Linked DNA regions of Homo sapiens: region 1 is linked to region 2. The links come from fine-mapping of genetic effects on gene expression. Tissue or cell type: whole blood. Region 2 holds a variant in brackets; the other region holds the start of a gene. All regions are shown on one strand. Distances are from middle to middle.

The links. PIP is the estimated chance that this variant, and not a neighbour inherited with it, causes the effect.
Region 1: NBL1 starts here. The variant in region 2 is fine-mapped to the expression of NBL1 in whole blood (INTERVAL, PIP above 0.99).

The regions. Positions count from the first base shown.
Region 1 is chr1:19,642,901-19,645,400 of GRCh38, forward strand. NBL1 (NBL1, DAN family BMP antagonist) reads left to right here and starts at 1,411. Exons shown (of 4, transcript NM_005380.8): 1 at 1,411-1,546. The region is part of intron 1 of MICOS10-NBL1 (MICOS10-NBL1 readthrough); the gene reads left to right. RefSeq lists an enhancer at 423-1,258 and a silencer at 1,157-1,496.
Region 2 is chr1:19,600,471-19,602,970 of GRCh38, forward strand. The region is part of intron 1 of MICOS10-NBL1 (MICOS10-NBL1 readthrough); the gene reads left to right. The region is part of intron 1 of MICOS10 (mitochondrial contact site and cristae organizing system subunit 10); the gene reads left to right. Among named protein-coding and RNA genes, the nearest start is that of MICOS10-NBL1, 4.7 kb to the left of the region's middle. The variant CTATT/C (reference allele first, on the strand shown) is at 1,187.

The DNA of each region.
Region 1 (2,500 bases), 42 kb after region 2:
GAGGGAAATTGACATGAACAGAAGTTCTCATCCTGTGCTCCAGGATCACACTGGAGGAGGGAGATGCTCCCAGAGGGTCTTGGGAAGGCTTTCCAATCTGGAGCTGGAAGAATGTTTGCCCAAGAGATGTACACAGTTATTCTAGAGGGAAATTGACATGAACAGAAGTTCTCATCCTGTGCTCCAGGATCACACTGGAGGAGGGAGATGCTCCCAAAGGGTCTTGGGAAGGCTTTCCAATCTGGAGCTGGAAGAATGTTTGCCAGAGATGAAAGGAGGGGAAGGGAATTCCGGGCAGAGGGAAGGGCGCAGGCAACAGCTAGGAGGCGCAGATGCAGGCTGGGTGTGGAGGGTGCGAGTAGGCTGGAGTACACCAGGGAGTTCCCAGCAGGCCACTAGGAGCCACCCAGGATGCCCGGCAACCTCATGAGTCAGACAAGCAGGGCTGTGTCTATCTGGAAGTTTCCAGCCAAGCTAGGTAAAACACATGGACACAGGTAACTATGCTGTAAAGCAAAATCCCCAAGTCCTACAATCGTGTCCCAGTGGTGTCCCTGGGCCACCACTTTCCAGAAGCAAAGTTATTTTCTCACCCCGTTGTTAAGCACACAGAATAGAGAAGGTACGGCCGCAATCCACCCAAGTGCCCACTGATTAGATAGGAACCCCCGAGGTGAGGCTGGAAGCTGGGGCCAGGAGCTCCACTCTTCCCAGGAGTCAGAGAAGTGAGTTCATTTGCTGGCTTTTTAGTTCCTAATAAGTCCCTGGGGCTTTTCGGGATGCTTAAGCCAAGGGCGTGGGGCCGAGAGCGACACTAGGATAACACTAGGCAAGGCTGAGCAACCCAGGCTACCAACAGCACGGACTTGAACCGGGTCGCATGCCGGAGCGGACGGGATGAGGTGCACCGCAGAACTGGGGACTCCTGGTGCCGGGACGCGGCGGGCTGGGGCGCCCCACTCTCGGGGCAAGTCTGCAATGCCCGGTGCCCACAAAAAGGACACATCCATCTTTGTCACCCCGAGGCCTGGCACGGCCTGACGGCCCAGGCTCGGTAAAAGTCGGGCGGAGAGAGTGGAAGCGCAGAGAAACCCGGGGAGGGCGCTTAAGAACGGGCCAGGGCGCCCGGCTGGGCTGCCCTGCCTCTCGGGCGCCGGCCAGGCGTCCCGGCCGCCCCACCACGCCGTCGGAGCGCGCCGAAGCTCAGCCCGGGGCGGGCGGGCCAGGAGAGGGCCCGGGGCCCCTGCCGCCGCGGCGCCCCCTCCTGCGCACCCGGAGGGAGAGGCCGCGCGCGCCCGCCCGCTCTTTCTGCGCGCGGCCCTCCCCGCTGCCCCCGCCCTCGCGCCCTGTTTGGAGGGAGCCACCCTGACGTCGGAGCCGCTCCCCCGCGCCGCGCGCCCGCCCGGGGCCGCAGACAGCGCGCAGCGCAGCCCAGCCGAGCGTCGCGGGGCCGCCCCCCGCCCTGCCGGCCGCCTCGCCGAGCCTCCTGGGGCGCCCGGGCCCGCGACCCCCGCACCCAGCTCCGCAGGACCGGCGGGCGCGCGCGGTAAGTCCCGCCCGGGTCGGCACGCGGGCGCCCGGCTTCCAGAGGCTTCGGCCGCGGGGGCAGTGCCGCGCCCCCAGCCCGGAGCTGCGTCCCCCGGCGCGTCCGGCGGCCGCGGGCACCGGGTGGAGGCGCCGCCGCCGAGCTCAGGAGCCCTGGGGGACCTGGCGGGCGCCTCCGGACGCCGGCGCTGGGGACGTGGGCGCGGCACGGGGTGGCCGGGGGGCACCGCCGCGTCCGGAGCCCGTCCCCAGACTCGCCCCAGGGTTCCGTTTCTGGATCGGAGTTTCCGCGGCCGGGGGAGAGAGGGAGCGAGGGAGGGAGATGCGTGGCCGGGCGGGCCGGGCTCGCATGTCCCCCGGCCGTGCCCGGGCCTCGCCGCGCCGCGCCTCTCGGCTCTGGACGTTTCCGCCTCCCGCGGCCCCCTCTGCTTCGGTCCCCACGTCCGTGTGTCTGTCTCTCCGTCGCTCCGTTTCCGCCGCTCACTTTCCCCTGGTCTGCCCGTCTCTTTCCGTTCCCCGCCTGCCTCCGTGTTCGGCTGCCCGCGTTTGTGTCTCTGCCTCTGGCTTTTCTCTCCCTCTCTCTGTCTCTGCGCTGCCCTCTGTGGGGGTCTCGCCCTGTGTCTGCGCCTCTCCCTGATCCCCCGCCCTCCGATCCAGACAATCCCCCAGTGTCGGAGGCTCGCCTTCCCCCAGCGGGGTTCACGAATAGTTTCCTAGACCGGGTGCGGCAAACCCTCCCCCTGCCTCCCGCCGGCCCCGAGGCCTGGCCCGGGTCATCTCCCTGGAATTGAGTCTGGGGCAGGGAGAGCCAGCCTTTCCGGGGGCTCAGTTTTCTTAAGAATTCCACCCCCGCGAGGCCGGCTGGACGACAGGCCCTGCTGCGGGCCACCTGCCCGGCCCGCTCCCAGGGCGGGGCGATTCTGATCGTTTACAAGCGGCGGCAAAGGGGGCAGCC
Region 2 (2,500 bases):
GTATTTCAAAATGGAGATGGAGACTCAGGGAATGGCAGCCTGTCATAAGATAGGTAAGAGGTTTGGTGGAAGACATAGACAGGAAGAAAAGGCCAATGCAGGCTTTCAGCTCCATCTTGATAATTTCACTGTGGGTTTTTGTTGTTTTTAAGACAAGGTCTCACTCTGTCACCCAGTCTGGAGTGCAGTGGTGCAATCACAGCTCACCACAGCCTTGACCTCCAGAGCTCAGGTGATCCTCCCACCTCAGCCTCCTGAGTAGCTGGGACTGTGGGTACGCACCACCATACCCATCTAACTTTTGTATTTTTTGTAGAGATGGGGTTTCACCATGTTGCCCAGGCTGGTCTTGAACTCAGGGTCCAAACGATCCACCTACCTTGGCCTCCCAACGTGCCAGGATTACAGGCATGAGCCACCACACCTGGTCCATCTTGATAATTTCATACTCTGGCTTGGCAAAGACTGAAGGGAAGCCATGGTGAATGCACAGCAACTTCTGTGAGTCCTTCTCTGTTTGGTTGTCTTATACCTAAAGTGTTTTGCTTCCAGGGTTCACCAGGGTTATTTTCCCACCTGTTTGCTGTACGATGACTATTATAATCACTCGTGTTTAGCATAGGTGTTGTATAGCTGAGTTAAATAGCTTTCTTAAGCCTGTACTTTAGGCAGTGGTCCTTTAAAAAAGTAATCTTCAAGGATCTTTTCACCCTGAGGCTTGAATAATATCTTAATAGAAAATTATCATATGATTTTGTCCTGTAGGAAGAGGCATTTATTTATAAATACCCTTGCCCCCATTACTATCTTAAGAAAAGCAGTTCTAGGCCAGGCACAGTGGCTCATGCCTATAATCCCAGCACTTTGGGAGTCTAAGGTGGGAGGATCACTTGAGCCCAAGAGGTCGAGACCAGCCTGGGCAACATAGTTAGACCCATTGCAGCAAAAAATATATATATTAGCTGGGTGTGGTGGCATACGCCTATGGTACCAGCTACTTGGGAGGCTGAGGTGGGAGGATCTCTTGAGCCTAGAGGTTGAGGCTGCAGTGTGCTGTGATCGCACCACTGCACTCCAGCCCAGACGACAGAGCAAGACCCTTTCTCAAAAAAAAAAAAAAAGAAAAGAAAAAGGAAAAAAAAGAAAAGCAGTTATATTTTACCTGCTTATTCGGGTTTTAAAACCT[CTATT/C]TATTTTGTATCAAATAGTGTGGAAGAATAGGTGATTTCTAGTATGGTTTGAACTGATAAATTAAGCCCATGGATCTAAAAACAATAGCAAAAATTAAAACCCATCTTTCTCTTGGAAGGGAGCTCTGAGTGATGGGCACAGTGGGCCCTTACTTGTTACACATCCACTTCTCTTTTTTCCACTTTTTTAGCCCTTGTTGCTTTCTTTTTCTTTATTCCTGTCACATTTTTACACTTCTTTTTGACCTCTATTCTTATTCCTGCCACTGCCACTACATACATTGCCTAGTTCATCTATAAAGTTTGACATTGATAGGTCTTTTTTCCTTAGTAACCCTGTTAGCATTTAAGAAGTTCCTAGGTATTCTATTTATTCTTTATCACATCATTTTTCTTAATAGCATGTTTCACCATTTGAAATTTGTAATTGGTTTCTTTACTTGATTGTTTCTTCTCCCTGGAATGTAAACTTCATAAGAACCAGAGGCTGTTGTGTTCACTGTTGATCCCCTAACGCCTGGTTTAGAGGAGGCGTACAATAATTATTGTTAAATGAATGACATGTATTGCTGAGAATTTTGTAGACCGTTCTCTGCCCATATTTGCTTCTCAGAGTGTGTTTATTAACTGAATGAATTAGTATTTAACTGAAAAACTCCAAGTAAAGTAGATTTCTGCCCGTTCACATGTTTGATCATGTATCCTTGTGTTCTTGGGACTTATACCAACTTTTAATTTCATCTGGGAATGTAAATTAACTGTCAGTAGATCTTAATAATAAAGTAGTATTAAAAATGTTTGGGAATAGTCAACTGAGAAACATAAACCAGAGAGCACTTTTGTATTTAAACAAGTAGAGGGATGATGTTGGTTTAAGTGGTAGTGCCAAAGCCTTATTGCAGGAAATTAAAAAGGAGTGAAGAATATTACATTTTATGAATGGCATGTTCCGTTAGTTTTATGTGAATGCGTCATTAATGGGTTTTGCTTATTTTATGGATTTATTTTTAAGTTTTATCAGATTTATTAAATGCTCTGGCTTTCTTTATCCACTCAGTTCAAGGGCTGTGGTGTTTATTTTCCTTGTATGTATGGGTAATCTGTCTTAGTACCCATGAGCATGAATAAGTCACACATTTCTTATTAGTGAGGCTAGAAGGCATAGTGTCTTATCAACCTAGGAGACTTTAAATCGTTCTGGTCTCCACAGAGCCGATGTCCTCAGCTTGGGCTTGTCACCCTGGACTGGATGAGAGGTTATGTCTGTTTTCAATTTCCCAAGGAAAATAAGATTTTAGGAGATGAGAAAA